4 separate regions of the Homo sapiens genome follow, and regions 1, 2 and 3 are each linked to region 4. Evidence: fine-mapped expression QTL. A gene starts in region 4. Each other region holds a variant in brackets. All regions are shown on one strand. Distances are between the middles of the regions. Region 1 overlaps TACC2 (transforming acidic coiled-coil containing protein 2). Region 2 overlaps TACC2 (transforming acidic coiled-coil containing protein 2). Region 3 overlaps NSMCE4A (NSE4A component of SMC5/6 complex). Region 4 holds the start of ATE1 (arginyltransferase 1).

The links. PIP is the estimated chance that this variant, and not a neighbour inherited with it, causes the effect.
Region 1: its variant is the best candidate, but not a certain one, in a credible set for the expression of ATE1 in thyroid (GTEx, PIP 0.80).
Region 2: its variant is the best candidate, but not a certain one, in a credible set for the expression of ATE1 in sun-exposed skin (GTEx, PIP 0.63).
Region 3: its variant is the best candidate, but not a certain one, in a credible set for the expression of ATE1 in tibial artery (GTEx, PIP 0.70).

What each region holds. Positions count from the first base shown.
Region 1 is chr10:122,196,177-122,201,212 of GRCh38, reverse strand. The region is part of intron 8 of TACC2 (transforming acidic coiled-coil containing protein 2); the gene reads right to left. Among named protein-coding and RNA genes, the nearest start is that of BTBD16, 73 kb to the left of the region's middle. RefSeq lists enhancers at 1-278, 279-1,224, 4,711-5,036. The variant G/C (reference allele first, on the strand shown) is at 2,053.
Region 2 is chr10:122,082,782-122,087,817 of GRCh38, reverse strand. It overlaps TACC2 (transforming acidic coiled-coil containing protein 2), which reads right to left. Exons shown (of 23, transcript NM_206862.4): 4 at 1-5,036. Among named protein-coding and RNA genes, the nearest start is that of TACC2, 96 kb to the right of the region's middle. RefSeq lists an enhancer at 1,851-2,352. The variant C/T (reference allele first, on the strand shown) is at 2,122.
Region 3 is chr10:121,962,970-121,968,005 of GRCh38, reverse strand. NSMCE4A (NSE4A component of SMC5/6 complex) reads left to right here. Exons shown (of 11, transcript NM_017615.3): 4 at 200-351; 5 at 2,621-2,720; 6 at 4,678-4,768. Among named protein-coding and RNA genes, the nearest start is that of NSMCE4A, 9.7 kb to the left of the region's middle. The variant G/T (reference allele first, on the strand shown) is at 2,330.
Region 4 is chr10:121,925,122-121,930,157 of GRCh38, reverse strand. It overlaps ATE1 (arginyltransferase 1), which reads left to right and starts at 2,127. Exons shown (of 12, transcript NM_001001976.3): 1 at 2,127-2,314. The coding sequence starts at 2,209. It also overlaps the pseudogene ATE1OSP. RefSeq lists silencers at 1,546-1,845, 2,036-2,455 and enhancers at 1,361-2,227, 2,766-2,915.

The DNA of each region.
Region 1 (5,036 bases), 270 kb before region 4:
GGCCATCCTCTCACTGTAGATGTGGCCACTGTGGGCAGGTGAGGTGGCCGTCCTCTGACTGTAGATGTGGCCACTGTGGGCAGGTGAGGTGGCCGTCCTCTCACTGTAGATGTGGCCACTGTGGGCAGGTGAGGTGGCCGTCCTCTCACTGTAGATGTGGCCACTGTGGGCGGGTGAGGTGGCCGTCCTCTCACTGTAGATGTGGCCACTCTGGGCGGGTGAGGTGGCCGTCCTCTCACTGTAGATGTGGCCACTGTGGGCGGGTGAGGTCGCTGTCCTCCCCGTGTGAACACAGCCACTGTGCGCAGGTGAGGTGGTCGTCCTCTCAGTGTAGATGTGGCCACTGTGGGCAGGTGAGGTCGCCATCCTCTCAGTGTAGATGTGGCCACTGTGGGCAGGTGAGGTCGCCGTCCTCCCCATGTGAACATGGCCACTGTGGGCAGGTGAGGTGGCCGTCCTCCCCATGTGAACACGGCCACTGTGGGCAGGTGAGGTCGCCGTCCTCCCCATGTGAACATGGCCACTGTGGGCAGGTGAGGTGGCCATCCTCTCACTGTAAATGTGGCCACTGTGGGCAGGTGAGGTGGCCGTCCTCTCACTGTAGATGTGGCCACTGTGGGCAGGTGAGGTGGCCGTCCTCCCCATGTGAACGCAGCCACTGTGGGCAGGTGAGGTAACTGTCCTCCCCATGTGAACACAGCCACTGTGGGCAGGTGAGGTGCCCGTCCTCTCACTGTAGATGTGGCCACTGTGGGCAGGTGAGGTAACTGTCCTCCCCATGTGAACACAGCCACTGTGGGCAGGTGAGGTGCCCGTCCTCTCACTGTAGATGTGGCCACTGTGGGCAGGTGAGGTCGCCATCCTCTCATGTCTCCTCACCTGGCTCTATGCAGGCCCCAAACTCTCCATCGTCCTTCCAGCCTGGGATGAACGGGGCTTGGATCTGGTGGCTGTGAACCCATATACCCCTGGCTCGATGGCCAGGGCCCCCAGGTGCAGTGCCAGCCTCTGCCTGGACTGCATCAGAATCTCCAGTGGTCTCACCTGTTCCCTGGTCCTGGGCCCATGAAACACTCACATTGTGAAGAGGGAGCAGCCGGCCCAAGAGGGCCCGAGTGCCTGTGGCAGCCAGATCCAGGCCTGAAAAGGCTCGGCCCTCAGCTTGCTGTGTGCTCTGGTCCGAATGTGTGTGTCCCCGAAATTCCTATGTTGAAATCCTCATATAAGGTGATGGTATCAGGAGGTGGGGCCTTTGGGAGGTGATGAGCTCATGGGGGCAGTGTCCTCATGAGTGGATTAGTGCCCTTACGAAAGAGGACTGAGGAAGACTGTGTGTCCTTTCACCATGTCAGGACACAGGGAGGAGGTGCTGTCTATGAACAGAAAGCAGGTCCTCACTAGACACCAAATCTGCCAGTGCCCTGAGCTTGGACTTCCCAGCCTCCAGAACTGTAAGCAATACATTTCTGTTGCTAACAGGTACCTGGTCTATGGTTACGTTGATAGCCGTGTGATCAGACCTAAGACAGTGTGCTGTCATCAGCTGTCATAGGGAATTCTTGTGTGGGTGAAGAGGGAGAGTCTGTAAGCACCTGGCCCAGGTCATAGCAGGTGTCAGGAAAAGGCAACCACAGCCCCCTGCTCTTCACACGCCATGGTGACACCCACCCCTGTGCCCCTGCCCCAGGCTGGGAAGGGCCTCAGCTGGATTCTGGGATGCCCCACCCCATGCCAGGAAGTCTCCCGTGGCTACAGGGAGCACCCACGTATGGCCTCTTTGGAGACAAAAGCAGGTGACAGTGTATACGAAAACCAGAGGCGGGCCCAAAGAAAAGGGAAGCCACTGTGTGCTCTGCAGCCAGGCTGGGCACTGAGCTCCATTCCAAGTCAATGTGAGGACAGCTGTCCACAAACAGCCACTTAGAGCACAACGAGTGCCTGGCGAGGACACTGGTGCTTGGATCTGGTGGCTGTGAATCTGTATACCCTTGGCTCAATGGCTCGGGCCCCCAGGTGCAGTGCCACAATCAGTGCCTGGGGACCATGTCCTGG[G/C]AGACAGAGGAAAGGTATAGGCACGCAGGGCACAGGGAGGCCCCCATTACCTCCAAGGCCCCAACACGGGCCTTTCCCTGGGCTTGGCAATCTCCTAGCAAGAATGAGTAAAGAAGCTGCATTCCCCAATGCTGAACAATGTCCCTGAAGGGCAGGTGGGCAACTGTCAGAATGGACCTGCCTCAGCTCTCCTGCCATGTCGCCCCCACTGATCACCCACTGACTCGCAATCCTTTGCCCCATCCTTTGCCTCGGGGGCGTGGCCTAGGCTGCAGCTCTCAGGACAGGCTGGCAGGACTGCCCCAGCACACATCTAAGCAACAGCAGGTCCAGCAACAACTTTCACTCAACACCTACTAAGGGCCTGCCCCAGGCTAGGCGCACAAAGGCACCAGCTCACTGTACCTGCGCAGAGAGCAGTCTGGTTCCAAATGGAAGGGAGCCGGGCTTGGAAGTGGGGAGGCCTGGGTTCTGACACCAGAGTCCCCTTATCGCTGTGAGATGGCGTATGAGGTTCGTAACCTCCGCGTGTCACTGGGGAATCAGGGGAAGACATCCACTATACAGGGATGCTGTGTGCATACGGCTGATCCTCCCTCACCTGAGTGGGAGATGAAACACTCAGAGGACCTAGCATAGCCCTGACAAGGCAAATGCTTGAATGGGAGCTATTATTTAATTACATGACATGTAATTATGACCCTTGGTGGCCGGTTTTGAGTTCTAATAACACGGTCACTGTACATCAGCCAACCATTCCCTTCACAGGACCTCGGGAGGCCGGAGCTGGAAGGATCTGAAGGGACCCACAGATCACCCTCTTCATTTCACAGATAAGGGAACTGCGTTCAGATGAGCTGAGTCCTGGCCCGCCCCAGCTGGCAGCAGGTGCAATCCTTTGCCCCATCTTCTGCCTCAGGAGTGTGGTCCAGGCTACAGCCCTCAGGACAGGCTCATGGGACTGCTCTGGCCCACACATCTTCCATCCCAGGGAGCCCAGACACGCTGGTAGGACCCAATGTAGGGCAAGTGAGTGCTTTATAAAATGTAGGTTGCCAGGGGGAAAAACCATCTTTATTCACAGCCAAAGGTGTTGTGTATTAATTCACGTGGTTCCCACAGCACCTTTCGCAACATCCCGGGCACTGTGCAGAGGAAAGTAAACAATAGATTTTCCCCTGGTACCCTTCTTTCCTATGGTTGAGAGAACAAATCTTTCTTCTCCTACAGCCACCTACACTAGCAAGCACAGCTGCCTTCCCACGCCTTCGTAATGCCCCATGCTGGTCTACAGAATGGACGAGGGGACCCTCCGCCTGGGAGGCGGTTTTCTAACCAGGGCAGCAAATCAAATGGATCTTTGTACAGCCCAAGCTAGGGGGGCTTTCAGCAGACACAGTTCCAACCGTAAGTCTCCTGAGTGTACAATCCTCACACAGCTAGCCTTGCTGCCGTTTTCAAAGGAGGAGAAACATAAAGTCCCCGTTCAAACACTCCAATTGGTGTAATCCAAGGTTCTGAGGGGCTGTGACTCCACAGCAATTAACGTTTCCATCCCCTTCCCTGGTGGGGGTTATCTTTTAATCCTCAATAATGCTCATTCTTTTAGTAACTGCCATCTAAGAAAAAGATGGATGTTGTGCGTGTTCGTTTTAAGAATGGAGATTGTTCTCTGCTTTGTTGAAAGGAAGTTAGGCAGAAGGAAGAAGGACAGGATCAAAGAAGAGAACAGAGTGGCATCCCATTCATCCCAGAGCTGGCAGGATGTCGGACTGGGAATCCCAGAAGACGCACCTGTGGCCACAAGTGGCCTCTCCGCACACTCCTTGGTGCTGGGGATGGTACATGCCCTATAACATGCTATCATTTTCTTCTAAACATTTGTTTGTTTGTTTATTTTGAGACAGAGTCCGGTTCTGTCACCCAGGCTGGAGTGCAGTGGCATGGTCTCGGCTCACTGCAACCTCCACCTCCCGGGTTCAAGCGATTCTCCTGCCTCAGCCTCCTGAGTAGCTGGGACTACAGGCGTGCGGCACCATGCCTGGCTAATTTCTGTATTTTTAGTAGAGACGGGGTTTCACTATGTTGGGCAGGCTGGTCTCGAACTCCCGACCTCAGGTGATCCACCCTCCTTGGCCTCCCAGAGTGCTGGGATTACAGGCGTGAGCCACCATGCCCGGCCAAGCATAGTTTATTCTTTGTTTTTTTGTTTTTTTTTTTTTTTTTTGAGACGGACTCGCTCTGTCACCCAGGCTGGAGTGCAGTGGTGTGATCTCCGCTCACTGCAAACTCCGCCTCCTGGGTTCACACCATTCTCCTGCCTCAGCCTCCCGAGTAGCTGGGACTACAGGTGCCCGCCACCACGCCCAGCTAATTTTTTGTATTTTTAACGGAGATGGGGTTTCACCGTATTGGCCAGGATGGTCTCCATCTCCTGACCTCATGATCTGCCCGCCTCGGCCAGAATAGTTTATTCTTAATCACACATTTGACCTAGAGATTACAATGTGTTTGTCATCCAGCCACTTTCCATTAAAAATTATGGGTAAGTTTTTAAAAATATTACGAGAAATACAGTTTTATATGCTTGGTCATACAAAATAAAGGAAGAGATGCAAACGATGCTCTGAGAACTACAGACAGCCCTCCTGGCTCTTCTCTACTTTCAAATCAAAGAAATATCCGTCACTATCCTCCCAGAGTCTGGCATCTACACTGACTCAGCAAAATCCAGACACTGCTGCAGACTGATGAGCCGTCAAAGACGGGGGACATGGGAGCAGTATTCGGCAGACTCCACCAAAGGCATCAGCTCTCATTAAAACTGTCCTGCCCCCTTGTCCCAGCACGGGGGTTTGCTGGTTTAGGAACAAAGCTCCGGGAGTGTACATCCTTTCCAAAACAACGGGCTGCTCGAACCCACGGCGGATAAAAAGAATTCCACCCATTTCTTTCTAAAACCAACATCAAGGTCAAAATGTTAT
Region 2 (5,036 bases), 160 kb before region 4:
GGGGCCTGGCTGGGCTGTCCCCATGAAGGGCAGCTGTACCCTCCATCCCCGGAGCCTTGTCAGAGCAGGCTGGGTCCTGACAGCTTCCTGGCAGCACCAAGTCACCTGCCACAACGGAGAATGTCCTCGTAGTACCTGCTTCAGGCAGATCACCGGACGCACATGCCTGTGTCTCAGCTGTGCTCAGGGTGATGTCACCCTCTGCTTCCCCAGCAGCGCCTGCCACCTTGCCAGGCTCCAGGGGAGTGTCTGCCACTTCTCCAGTTGGTGGTGCAGGGGTGCTCTGGTTGCCCAGGGCATTTCGCATTTCCAAGATGCCAGCAGTGACTCCGGGTCTCCTTTCACCCCCAAGCGTGTCAAGGGTCCAGGGCTCACTGTTGGCCTCAGGCACAGTCAAAACCTCCCTCTGAGGAGAAGGGGCACACGTGGACCTTGGCACATGTCCTGGAACCCCTGTGTGAGCAAAGTCCCCGGGACCATCTTCTCCATGTGGACTGTCGCAGGCAGATGTTTCCTGGTGCTGCTTTCCAGAAGGAATTCTGTCTTGGGCCACGGCCTCTTCTCCATGGCTATGGGGAGCCACCTGGAAGGCAGCAGCTCTCTCCACAGGGAGCTCCTGAGTAGCTGCTGGTGAAGGAAGACCTGAAGCTAATTCCTGCCTGCTCCTCTCCAGCTGTGAGTAAGCCTGGCCTTCCAGGCCTGGCCAGGCTGCCCCAGGCCCCTCTGGCCTCTCGTCTTCCCTCAGTGTGGGTGGGACACCTGCCATCTCCTTCCCCACACCGGCACCTGGCAAGTTCCGCTCCCAGGTCAGCCCTGCTGGACCCAGAAGCTTGTCTGAAGCTGGATCTTGCAGAGCCAGATGGGAAATCTCAGCCTCTCCAGCCAACTGTTGCTTCTTCTCCACCTGGAGTCGAGCAGGAGGTGCAGGGAGAAGGGTGACATCCACTCCTGGAGGCCCATCTAGAAGCTTCTCTGGGCCCAATGGCCTGGTGAGGTCTTTACCCACTGCACTCCTCCCAGCTCCTGCCTTTTCTCCAGGTGTGGCCAGGGCTCCGAGCACAGGCTTCTCGAAGATCTTGGCGATGTGCTCCCTGAAGTCTGGGAAGCCAGTGAGGGTGGCGATTTGCTCAGAGCTTGTGTCCACACCACCTGATGTGCCCTGCTTTGGGTCCTGGGAAGGCTCTCCCATCCTCTCCATGCTGCCCTCTGTCTCTCCTGCTGCATCACCTGCCATGCCCTCCCCACTGGCCTTGGCACCTGCACCTGGAGCTGTTGCTGCTTTCTCTTCCCCTGTTGCCTGCTTGCCCTTGGCCAGAAGTGGCATCCGGTCCAGGCATGGCATGGAGTCCACTGGTCCCTCAGTGGTTCTGGCTTTGGGACTACCACTGCTGGCTTGCACTGCAGGGATTTCCCCACCTGCAGCTCCTGGTTGCAACAGGGGGGCGAGGGAGCCAGCAAACAGCTTCAAGGAGGCAGCATTTTCCAAGGCAAGTGGGGGCTCCCCTACAGGACAGGGGCTTTCGCCAGGAGCTCTGGGGTCTGCAGAGGAAACAGCTTTCACTCCACTGTCTTCTGCTCCTCTCTGGGCAGCACTGTCGACATGCAGGTAAGGGGTGTCAGGAGCAGCCACTTCTGGTGGCCCAGACAGCAGGAGCTCCTTTGGGTCTGGGACAGCCTGGTGTGTAGAAAAATCCATGGTGCTCCTGGGAATCCCACCCAGCTCTCTGGCTGGCAGCAAGGCATCCTGGCAGCTGGCCATGGGGTGCTCAGCTTGGCAGGACTCACGTAGGGCAGAGGTAGAAGCTTCCTCCCCGGAGGTAAGGCAGTGCTCAGTCTGAAGGAGGCCACAACTCAAAGTAGCTTCTCCAGGTTTCTCCGGAGCCTGCTGCTTTCCTGGGTCTCCTGCACCAGCGCTGCCACCAGTCTCAGCAGCCCCGGCTTCACCACCTTGCTCCCCAGCTGATGGGAAACTTGCAAGAAGCTTTGGGGACTCTGCATCCGAAGTGGCCCAGCACTCCATTTTCTGCTGCGGGGCCGGCACTGGTTGCTGCCTGCCTTCCTGGGTTTCATCACATGCCTCTGTCTCTGGGGCATCCTGGGTGGGTGTGACTCCGGGGCTGG[C/T]GGGCGCCAGGGCTGGCAGGCAGGGAACTGCATCCAGGAGAGCTACTGAGTCAGGCTGACAAGGTGGGGCCTCCCCTGTGTTTCCACTTGCCATCTCCCTCTTACTCAAGCCCCAGAGTGGGGAACAACCATCAGCTGCTTCAGAAGCTCCTGGATGCCTTTGACATGCTTCTTCATGCTGGCTGCCTTCTTCCAAGGCATCAGCCAATGCCTGTTGAGACTTGTTTGGCCCCTGCCCAGTGCAGCAAGTTTCCTTTCTGCTGAAGTTCCCTGCAAGAGAAAAGTCTTTTAAGACATCTGCTGCTGGAGGCGAGACCCTCGAGGACTGACCATCACCGCATGCTCCCTCTGGCCGCTTCTCCCCTAGTGCAGGCAACTTCTGTCTCGTTGGTGCTGACAATTCTGACTCTTCTGTCAGAGAACTCTCCCAAACCATGTCAGTGGGAGATGAAGTTGGAGTATCAGACAGGGTGCCTTTGGGGAGCTGACTTTGAAGTTCTGATCCCAAAGCCTGCTCCTGTCCTCCATGAGTGGGCAAGTTGTTATCTTCCTGAGGTTCCACAGGTACATGGATTTGGGAAGAATCTGCTCCCTGGTCCTTAAAACCTGGATGGCTTGGAGAAGTCTCTTTCCCATTTTCAGGTGGCTGGGCCTGCTCCTTGAGCACGTCAAAGATGGATGTCTCTGGTTGTGCCTGGGATGGCTGGAGATGCTTCTCAGAAGATAGTAGGGGCCACTCGGATGCAGCTCCTCTTATCCAGCCTTCCCCTGGGCAGGATGGGATTCCCTGCTGATCTTGGTCCAGGATGAGTGCCGTGAGCCCCAGGTCTGCTGCCAAGTTCTCCCCCTGGGGGGGATGTGGCACCCCAGCATGAAATTCCTGTCTCGACGCATCACACGCCGGCCCGCGGGGTTGATCTGGGGACGTCAGCAAGCCCTCCCCATCACAGCTGCCCATCTTCCTTATTTCCAATGTGCTCTCACCTTCCTGGGCTTTGGGTGCAACCTCTGCAACAGGAGTTGGTGGAAAATCTGATTTCTCTGATTCTAAAGTCAGGAAAGACTCCATTCTTCCCAATCCTTCCCTGCTCTGAAGGGTGTCAGGACATTTGGGCTGCAATCCTGACCCCTCCCAGATGGCTCCTTCGGGAACAGTGGGCTCACCAGCTCCATCTGGCACAGGGGGCAGGACGGGGTCCTCCTCACCCAGCTTGTGTGGTAGGCCAGATGCATCAGCCTCTGCTGTCTGAGAGTGGGGCCCGTCCGTGTGCCCAGCACCCCCCTTTCTGGGTGGCTGTGCTGAGTGTGAGCTGGGATGGTCTCTGCTCTCTGCATCACTGCTTGGCTTTGAAAGCTCATCTTTGCCTACTTCTGGATCACGCTTGCTGCTGAAAGCCTGAGAGTCCTCTCCTTGCAGGTTCCCTGGGTCTCCACCATCAGGTGGCTCTGGGGCTTCCTCCTTTCCTCCAGGGCTGTCACCAGGTGATCTGCTTCCTTCTTTAGCCACGGCTGGGCTTGTGGAATCTTCATGGACCTTGGCTCCATCCGTTGGCCCCGGTGGCCCTCTGGCACTTTCACTTGGTGCCTTGGGAAGAGGAGGGGGTGGTGCTCCTGGTTGGACCTCATGGCTTTGCTCCTTGGGAAGAGGAGGGGGTGGTACTCCTGGTTGGACCTCATGGCTTTGCTCCGTGTTCAAGTGCTCTCCCCTCTCCTGGGGTGATGGGGCAGGAACCTCTCCAGGGTCCCCTTCTGGATGCTCTCCCTTGCTTCCAAGATCTGACACCTGCCTCTCCAGTCCCACCAACCCTGCATCCACCACCTCTTTGGCTGCATCTGCAGAAACTGGCATCCCAGCCTTGGAAACTGATTCCCTGGATGATGATCCAGGTTCTTCTACAGCAATAGGAATCTGAGCAGCTGGGAATGAAGCGAGGCTTGAAGCTGGATGTGCTTCCTCAGTCGGAGTGAGCAGGGAAGGTTCAGGGCTCACAGGCAAACCCCCTTCGGGCTGGCCGCCTGCTGCCACACAGACAACTTGATTGGGCTTGGTTCCTCGCATCCCTGTCTGTGGGTGACCCTGAACATCAATGGTGTCCAGAGCCTCCTTCCCAGAGCCCCCAGCCTCTGGCACCAGGGCAGGACTTGGCAAGCCCCAGGGCAGCTCTGCGTGCGGCAGATATGCTCCCACTGGCTGCTGGCAGCTCTCCTGGGAAGCGGCATTCACTTCTGCTTCTGGGGCAGCCCCTGAATTGCTCCTAGGGAGATGGCAGGCCCTGAGGAATTCCAAGTCATCTGTTAAATACTGAGGCGGCGCCTCCCCTTGGCCTCTTTCTCTGTCTGAGGCTCTTGGGGCTGGATCTTGTGGGATCGGGGCCATGGGTTTTAGGGGGGACTTCTCCAAGACCGCTGAGCTTTCTGTGCCCTGCTGGGCTGCAGCAGGGGCCTCAGGGGTCACTTGCACAGAAGCCACCCCCTGCCTGGACTCTGCAGGGGGAAAGCCACCTGCAGCCTCTTTCTCTTGGGACTCAAAACCACCAGGCTGGTCCCCCTCTCCACACAGCGGTGCCTTCATTGGCTCTCTGAGGGGTACTGGCGACATTCCAGGTGACTGGTCGATGCCACTGGAGAAGGAGAAGGAGGACTTCTGTCCTTCTTCCTTCGGCTGTCTCTCTCTTCCAGCACTGGGGACGGCAGCAATCTCTTGGTATGGAGTAGAGCTGTCCCTCTCAGCGGGAAATGCCGCCGCGATGTCTCCTGGGGCATTTGGGGCAGGTTCCCTCCTGGGAGACTGAGTCTGAGGACCATCTTCAGGTGCCGCTGCTGGACTTGCCAAGCAACCTTCCGGGGGACACTCGGCAAAGGGCATGGAGGACGAGGGGTGCTCTCGCTCCTGGGACGGTGGTGGGCTGGGCAGC
Region 3 (5,036 bases), 38 kb before region 4:
TGCCAAAAAGAAGGTAGCTTTGGAAGCAGGACTTTAACTGTAAAGTTATCTTCACAGTAAGAAATTTAGCCAGCATGTTAAGACACTGAAAGCTGGCTTTGCGTCTGGCCTCTTAAAGGTTGAGTGATGCGGATTATTGGATGTGGAAAATGATTGCATGTGGCTTAACTGGGTTTTTTGTTTTCCTTCATTTTTGTAGCTCACACATATGGGTGTAAATCCGCTAGAAGCTGAAGAACTCATCCGTGATGAAGATAGTCCTGATTTTGAATTCATAGTCTATGACTCCTGGAAGATAACAGGCAGAACAGCAGAAAACACCTTTAATAAAACCCATACATTCCACTTTCTGTAAGATTATTTTAAAAATCCAACAGACCAGTTATTTGTGAACCTTAAATTGCTTTTTCTTGTAGGGACAAAGATTATTTGGTATTGTAGAGGTGACAGTCATGATGCCGTTGTTTGGAGACTTTTGAAACTTTGATATGAAAGTTCATAAACACTAGGCCGGGTGTGGTGGCTCATGCCTGTAATCCCGGCACTTTGGCAGGTGGATGCAGGTAGATCATCTGAGCTCAGGAATTCAAGATCAGCCTGGGCAACATGGCGAGAACCCATCTCTACCAAAAATACAAAAAATTAGCCCGCTGTAGTGGCCCATGCCTGTGGTCCTGGCTACTTGGGAGGCTGAGGTGGGAGGATCACTTGAGCCTGGGAGGCAGAGATTGCAGTGAGCTGAGATTGCGCCATTGCACTCCGGCCTGGCTGACAGTGAGACCCTGTCTCAAAAAAGAAAAAAAAGTCCATAAACTCTAGATGTGGATGGAACCTTAAAGGATCTCTCATTCTGCTTTAGCAGAAAAGGCCAGAACCTCTTTACCAGTGCTCTCCTGGCTCCTTTGCTTCTAGCTCATGAGACTCTGGGTTTATCATCTTTAAAATCCTTATCATATAGGAGGATGATACCTCCTACTGAGGGTATCTTATGAGTCTCCCAACGTCTAAAGTGACATTTATTATAATACCCTGTTAGATGACCACTGACTTGTATTTGAAGATTACTTGTCACTGCCACATAAACTGTCCAGTTCATTTTTTAGATAGAACTCTGATTTAAAAAAAAGATTTCTTTATATTTGAATGAAGTTGGCTTCTGTCTTAACTTCCTGGCATGGTCCTATGGAGAAATTAAGAACAGCTCTTACTGGCTCTTCTCTAAGAGGACCTTCAAGTATACTGGTTTTGTTGCCCAGTAAATACTTTAGGGTAGCCATCTGAGTTGTTCAGTCCTTCTTTAAGTGGTATAGCTCCTGGGCTTTTGTCTTTTCTAATTTGTCTTTCTAAAAACCATTGAGATTGATAGTAGCTCGGGTAGAAGGCCTTGGAGATGCCAATGTAGTAGTGTGGTGTGGGGTCTGGCATCTATTTTTAATAAGACTTCAGGTAACTCAGGTGCCCAGAGCCATTTGTGTATGTTCTATTTAATAGGATGTAGTCCAAACTTCTTCATCTTAGGATAAAGTCTAAATCTTTGTTTTTTGCTATTGTACTAAACTCATAAATCCTAGGTTATAAAGATAAAGCCTTAAACTTTATCTCATCATCCAGCCCAATTTCCAGCCACAATGAAGTACTTAAAACTCTGTGTCTTTGTACTTGCTGTTCTCTTGGCCTCCAATTCCTTTTCATCTTTTCCATTCGGTAAAGTTTGTTTATCCCACAGGCCCCATCTTGGAAGCCTCCAGCAACTTCTCCAGACAGAGGTGTTAGCAGTGTAGGATCAGATTTCTCAACCACGTCACTCCCATGTCTGGGTAGATATCTCTGCCCAAGTGTTCTCATAGCACTTGAGCAGTACTCTCTAAGCGCCCAGGATCTACCATGTTGCTTTTTTAAAATTTGATTAATTTATTTTTTTATACTGCTCCTTGTGGAGCAGGAGTGTTCCCAGAGTAGCCCACCATGTTATATTGAAATGGATCTGTGTGCATAATGCAGCTGTCCATCTACATCGTATATTTTTGTCTCCTCAAGGGTAGGGACCACATGAGCCTTATTCTTGGGGCTTTGATCTCTACATGATGCAGACTTACATCTATTACTGTAACCCAAGTCTGCATGAGGGCAGAATCCAGAAGGAAAAGGAATCCCATGGCTGTGACTTGCCCTGTTATCCTAAGACAGATGTGTTCTGTAGTCCTGGGCTGGGAGCCTCTGCCTTGGCCTCCCCAGATCAAAGTCTTCTGACCCCACTGGAGCTTCCCCACATACATGTTCATCCTTCCCCTGCTCTTAGAAGTTGGCTTTGCAAAACAATAGGTTGGGT[G/T]GTGGGAAGATGTCACAGGCATATTCACTGGCCTACTTTACAGGGCAGTATGTAGGTGTCTGAGGAGGTATCTGTGGTTGAGTAAAGCTCCTAGGAGTTCTTTTAGAAATACAAAGAAGGCAGAAAGGCTGTCACAAACCTTATCAAGAGTCTTACTCTGATGTCAGCTTGTATATCACTGATGTCTGGTCTGAATTTGACTATACCATGCAAACTACTTTTAGTTAGTAAAGTTAGTTTGTTTAACAAACAACAGGCAAAAAAAATAAATGAAAGCATACTTTTCATTAGGTTGGGTTCAATATACGGAGAGTGCCCTGTGCCAAAGCCACGAGTTGATCGTCCAAGAAAAGTTCCTGTGATACAAGAGGAGAGGGCAATGCCTGCCCAGGTTTGTTTTAAAATGTTGCTTTTAAAAAAACACATTAAAGTTAAAATAGCTGTTAAAATAATGTGCATGCAATTTGGCCATTTTTTCTAAGTGTGCGGGTCTGGAGCCAGGTTTTGTCACTTAAATAATCATTTTATTTAAGCCTTTAAGCATTTTATTGGATTGGCTGCTTGTCTTTGTTTTAACTCATTTCTCTAGTTTTGATCAGTTCTCCGAAGCCAGGGTCAACCTCAGCACTGTCAACATTTACGGCTGGATAATGTTGGTTTGGGGAGCTGTCCTGCGCATTGTAGGATGCTTAGCGGCATCCCCAGCCTCTACCTGTTATATGCTAATAGCCCCCCCGACCCCTGAGTTGTGACAACCAAAAATGTCTACATGTGACAACAAATGTTCCCTGGGGAGGTGGGGGGAAAGTCACACCCACTCGAGAACCACTGTTTCTAAACCGCCCTTTTGTATTTTGCTATTTTATGTTCAACCTGAAAATGGTTAATCTGGTAATGTTACTATTCTATTAAGAAATTGATATGAAAATGTTACTGAGGCCAGGCACAGTGGCTTACGCCTGTAATCCCAGCACTTTGGGAGGCCGAGGCGGGCAGATCACAAGGTCAGGAGTTCGAGACCAGCCCGGCCAATACGGGGAAACCCCGTCTCTACTAAAAATACAGAAATTAGCTAGGTATGGTGGCAGGTGCCTGTAGTCCGGGCTATTCGGGAGGCTGACGCAGGAGAATTAGGAATCTAGGAGGCAGAGGTTGCACTGAGCCGAGATCATGCCACTGTACTCCAGCCTGGGCGACAGAGCGAGAGTCCGTCTCAAAAAAAACAAAGGTTGCCCGAGTGTGGTGGCTTACGCCTGTAATCCCAGCACTTTGGGAGGCCAAGGCGGGCAGATCCACCTGAGGTCAGGAGTTAGAAACCAGCCTGGCCAACATGGTGAAACCCTGTCTCTACTAAAAAGTACAAAAAATTAGCCAGATGTGGTGGTGGGTGCCTCTAATCCCAGCTACTCTGGAGGCTGAGGTAGGAGAATTGCTTGAACCTGGGAAGCGGAGGTTGCAGTGAGCCGAGATGGCACCACTGCACTCCAGCCTGGGCCACAGAGCAAGACTCCATCTCAAAAAAAAAAAAAAAAAGTTACTGAAACCAGAAAATCTGTTTTTTTTTAAACCATAATTTTTTTTGAGACAGAGTCTTGCCCTATCACCCGGGCTGGAGTGCAGTGGCGCGATCTCGGCTCACTGCAACCTCCGCCTGCTGGGTTCAAGCCATTCTCCTGCCTCAGCCTCCCAAGTAGCTGGGATTACAGGCAGGCACCACCATGCCCGGCTAATTTTGGTGTTTTTTAATAGAGACGGTTTCACCATAATGGCCAGGCTGGTCTCGAACTCCTGACCTTGTGATCCACCTGCCTCAGCCTCCTACAGCGCAGGGATTACAGGCGCGATGTCGGCTCACTGCAAGCTCCGCCTCCCGGGTTCATGCCATTCTCCTGCCTCAGCCTCCTGAGTAGCTGGGAGTACAGGCGCCTGTCACCACACCTGGCTAAGTTTTTGTATTTTTAGTAGAGATGGGGTTTCACCGTGTTAGCCAGGATGGTCAGCAAGACCCCATATCTAAAAAAATTTTTTTTAATTAGCCAGGTGTCTTAGACAAGGTAGAATGAATTAAAAAAAAAAAAATTAGCCAGGTGTAGTGGTGCACGCTTCTAGTGCCAGCTACTCAAGAAGCTGAGGTGGTAGGATCCCTTGAGCACAGGAGTCTGAGGTTACAGTGAGCCGAGATCATGCAACTGCACTCTAGCCTGGGTGGCAAAGCAAGACCCTGTCTCAAAAAAAAAAAAGAGTTCGGGTGTGCAAGAGAGAAGAAAAGGAGTTTGGGTGTGCAAGAGAGAAGAAAACGTTAATAGGCCAGTAAGTAGGTCTGTCAGCTTGATAATGACTTTTTTCAGTTAAGAAGAATGGAAGAATCTCATCAAGAAGCAACAGAGAAAGAAGTAGAAAGAATCTTGGGATTGTTGCAGACATATTTTCGAGAAGATCGTAAGTGTAACACCATTCAAAGTGGAGCAATTTGTATTTATCTGTTCACTGAGGTTACTTGTATTTAAAAGGCAATTTCAGCTGTATGTAATATTTGAATAAATACATATGCATTTTATGAGGATTCTTCTCCCCTTTAGAAATTTCATGTGAAAACTTTGAAGTTAACGTTTTCATTTTTATCTTTAAAAGATGGGGATTTTTTTTGTTACAAAATGAAATATGCCATTCAAGTGAGAAATGTCAAAAGTAGCTGTTCCACCTCCCC
Region 4 (5,036 bases):
TATAGTCCTGCCACATCCCCCTCACCGAGATGGTAGAGATAGTGATCAATAAATACTGAGGGAACTCAGAGACCAGTGCTGGCGCGGGTCCTCCGTATGCTGAGCCCTGGTCCTCTGGGCCCACTGTTCTCTACACTTTGTCTCTGTGTCTTACTTTTTTTCTCAGTCTCTCGTCCCACCTGACGAGAAACACCCACAGGTGTGGAGGGGCTGGCCCCCTTCAACAAGTCACCAGGCCACCAAGAAACCTCCTTCAGCTAGGTACATATCTAACACAGGCCCTTGGGGTCAAGAATGTCAAAACTCACCTCAAAAATTTATTTCTATTTCTCTGAGTTTCATTTCACTTTTTTAAACACACTTAAAACAATATTGTATCATCAGCTTTATTGTTGACTGGGAAAACTATGAGGACAGACAGGCTTAAATTATCTGTGCACGCAGAGGGAAAGATAAGGCATATTACCTTGTTGGAACTCTTTTTTTTTTTTTTTGAGATGGAGTCTCGCTCTTTCGCCCAGGCTGGAGTGCAGTGACGCGATCTCTGCTCACTGCAAGCTCTGCCTCCCGGGTTCACGCCATTCTCCTGCCTCAGCCTCCCGAGTAGCTGGGACTACAGGCGCGTGCCACCACGTCCCGCTAATTTTTTGTATTTTTTAGTAGAGAAGGGGTTTCACCATGTTAGCCAGGATGGTCTCTTATCTCCTGACCTCGTGATCCACCCGCCTCGGCCTCCCAAAGTGCTGGGATTACAGGCGTGAGCCACCGCGCCCGCCCCTGGAACTCATTTTTTAAAAAATTTTTTTGAGATGGAGTCTTGCTCTGTCACACAGGCTGGAGTGCAGCGGCGTGATCTCGGCTCACTGCAAGCTCCGCCTCCCGGGTTCACACCATTCTCCTGCCTCAGCCTCCCGACTAGCTGGGACTACAGGCGCCCACCACCACGCCAGGCTGATTTTTTGTATTTTTAGTAGAGACGGGGTTTCACGTGTTAGCCAGGATGGTCTCAATCTCCTGACCTCATGATACGCCCGCCTCGGCCTCCCAAAGTGCTGGGATTACAGGCATGAGCCTCAATTTTATATTTTGCCCTAGACTCTTATTCCTTAAATCTTCCTTAAAATAGTGGTTGCAAAATGGAGGCCCATGGGCTGGATTCAGCCTGTAAAACTGTTTTGTTTGGACTGTAGAGTTAAAAAAAACAAACAAACCCTGTATTTCCAGCATCTCATTAAAAATCGTATGAGGCACCGGACTTATAGTGGTACAAGACAGCAACTGTCTCTAGCTGACAGTTGTTTCCTTTAAAAGCCGTTAAGAGTTCTTTAATTTGCGAACCCTCGCCATTCACGGAATACCTGCTTGTGTTCTTGTATTCAGGGCACTGGAGTGCGTGCCAGCTGGTCTGGAAGCAGCTCCAGCAAGTCACTTACACGGTGGCCAGGGGCGGCCTGACTTTCAATCCGAGACCCGCCGGGAATGACTTTGGGATAATCACAACCTCCGGTCCTCAGTTTCCTTACCTGTGAAATGGGGCTGATAACGCACAGCTGTGGGAAGCACCGGCCCAAACGCAGGGCTTGGGGACACGACCACCATCCCCGCCCACGGGTCCCCGCGCCAGGCTTCGCTCTCCACCCCTCCCGCCGCGGGCCCCAGCGCTTCGCCGAGGTCGGCCCCGGGCGCCAAGAGGCGTGGTCGGCCCGAGCGGACCCTCGCGGCGGCCATGGCGTCGGTGGTGGAATACAAGGGCCTCAGGGCCGGCTACCACTGCGGCTACTGCGATTCCAAGGAGGGCAAAGCGTCCTGCGGTGAGTGTTCCCGACGCCGGAGTTGGCGCGGCCGCCGCGCCCCGCACAGGCCCTCGGCGGGGGAAAGGGCAGGCTCGCACCCCGACTCCCGCTTCCCTTCCCCTCTTGACTCTCCCCATCCTGTTTCCCTTCCCGCTCTGTCTCTCCGCCTCACCCTCACTGACGACGGCGGCCCCTTATGGAGAAGGAACGGAAATAGTGGAAAGCTGCCCTCGGTCAAGATGGCGCGGGCGGCGTCAGCTCCAAGAGGCGCCGGGCCGGCCGGGCCTGCGGGCGCCCGAGTGGCTTCGCGCGAGCCTCGGGAGGCTCCCGGGCGGCGCGCTGCATTGTGGGGTGGCGGCGGCGGCCGCGCTAGCGACGCGGGGCCGGGCGGCTGAGCGTTCGCGGGGCCGAGGCCATGGCTTTCTGGGCGGGGGGTTCGCCCAGCGTCGTGGACTATTTCCCTAGCGAGGACTTCTACCGCTGCGGCTACTGCAAGAACGAGTCGGGCAGCCGCTCCAATGGTGAGCGAGCCGGGCCGGCGGGCGTGGGAAGCCGGGCGCCCGGGTCTCGGGATCCCAGGGTCCCCCAGCGAGGACGCGAGGGGGCCGGAGCCCCTGGCCCCAGTGCCACGGCCGAGACGGAGGGGGCACTCTCGGGAGGGCCGCGGCGCCGGCTTAGCGGGGCAGCTTCGCGGTGCCTGTTCTGCAGGAAAATCCTAACCGGTGCCCGTACTCTCGAAATCGTGGTGGTCTCCCCAGAGTCGGGAGACGGACGCCCGTCTGGGGTAGATTGTGTGAGGTGAAGGACGGCGCGCAGTGCCAGGGAACGCCCCAGAGCCGTAGTTAATGGCCGGGGCTGACCGGTGGGTGCTGCGGTGGGAGCGTCCCGGGAGCGAGGGCGAAACGCGGTGCAGAGGGAGCTGTGGGTGTGCACACAGGTGCCGGTCATGTATGAATCAGACTTCCCTGGACGAATGTACAGGAAGGATGAGCCCTTTGCATCTCTGGGTTAAAAAAAAAAAAAGTTAAAAAAAAAAAGGACAAGAAACTGGTGACCGCGGTCGCTACCGGCGAGGGATTCTGTTTGTCCTGATCTGTTTGAAATTTTTACCATTTGCTTATATGCCGTGTCTTTCCTCCACCCACCCGGACGACAGCAAAGCCAGCCCACAAGTTTGTTTTGTTTTTCCATCGTGATTCAGATTTCTTTGGGGGAGATTTGTTGCTGGTAAACAAAACATCGTGTTTATTTCCTCTCTTGCCATGCATTTGCCAATATAGAATGTAGACTCTATTATTTTAATAGAACAGTCTAGCTTTGTGGAAAACGAGATTCGCATGAAAACACACAGGCATTTTCCATGAAAAAGGTGTAAGTGGGGAATGATTTGGTCGATAACGGTGTGTGCATTTGCTCCTTCATTAAAAGTGTTTATTAAGTGCTACTTGTGGGCAGCGGTTTTGAGTAGACAGTTATGCAATCGTTAGAAGTGAGGATTATGAAGACTAAATGGAAAAATGCTTCCAGTTTGGACTTAAACGGAGAAAATCAACAGGATGCAAATGGCTTATGCGACATGATTACAGTTCTGAAAGGAAGAAGGCCCGGAAGTACACCAAATCGTGACAGTGGTAATATGGCCTTAGAGTATTGTGGATTTCTACCTTCTCTTTTTCAGAATTTTTGTATTTTGGCTATAATATTTATCAAATCAATAAGTTACATTAAACGTGCCTAAAATTAATATTTTAATAGGTCATTACTTATTTTTTTCCAATAATTGTGATAAGAGAAAATTGGCTAACATAAATGTCTTGTATTTCACGTTTTGTCGAAGAAACCTGCCTGCAACCTTTCCATCAAGAGAAAATAATCATCAATTTCTAGTATCTCGATTTTAATTTTAATACTCTTTATTATGGGGCATCTACTTACTTGGTAGGTGAGTTTTATTTTTTTATTTACAGATGATGAAATTGAGGCTTATTGGGTAACTCCTTAGTGTGAGTGAGTGCCTGCCAGGTGTCGGGATATTTCTGTTGGACTCCAGTGCCATGCTTTTCCCACTATATTCTGCTCTATCAAGCCTGTCATATCTCTGATGTGATTTACTGTTTACAAAAGGGAAAAATCCATTTATTTATTTATTTATTTTGAGACACAGTTTCACTTTTGTTGCCCAGGCTGGAGTTCAGTGGCACAATCTTTGCTCACTGCAACCTCCACCTCCCAGGTTAAAGGGATTCTCCTGCCTCAGCCTCCCGAGTAGCTGTGATTACAGGTGCCCGCCACCACGGCCGGCTAATTTTTTTGTATTTTTAGTAGAGACGGGGTTTCACCATGTTGGCCAGGCTTGGTCTTGAACTCCCGACCTCAGGTGATCTACCCGCCTCGGCCTCCCAAAGTGCTGGGATTATAGGCATGAGCCACTGCACCTGGCCCATTTCTTTTTTAACTTTAATTTTTTTTTTTTTTTTAAGAGGCAGTCTTGCTCCTTTGCTCAGGCTGGAATGCAGTGGTGTGTTCATAGCTTACTGCAGCCTCAAATCTCAAATTCCTGGTCTCAAGCCTCCTCCCACCTCAGCCTCCCAAGTAGCTGGGACCACAGGCACAGGCCACAAAACCTGATTAATTATGATTATTATTTTTTTTTTGTGAAAACAGAGATTTGGTATGTTGCACAGGCTGGTCTTGAACTCCTGACCTCAAGTGATCTTCCATGTTGGCCTTCCAAAGTGTTGGGATTATAGGCTTGAGCCACCACCTCATGAAGCCTTTAGTTCTGATATGCCTTTAAATGTTTCCTCATAGTCTTCGTTTTTTTTCATAGTTGCGTGATTATTCCATCATGTTGACAACATCATAGCCCCTGTAATCATCTTCCTGTTCCTTGGCATTTGAGTTACTTTCTTTCTTTCTTTCTTTTTTTTTTTTTTTGAGACAGAGCTTCACTCTTGTTGCCCATGCTGGAGTGTGGAGTGCAATGGCTCGATCTCGAGTCACTGCAACCTCCGCCTCCTGGGTTCAAGCGATTCTCCTGCCTCAGCCTCCCAAGTAGCTGGGATTACAGGCATGTGCCACCATTCCCGGCTAATTTTGTGTTTTTAGTAGAGATGGGGTTTCACCATGTTGGCCAGGCTGGTCTCAAACTCCTGACCTCAGATGATCTGCCCATCTTGGCCTCCAAAAGTGCTGGGATTACAGGCGTGAGCCACTGTGCCCAGCTGAGTTACTTTCAGTTCT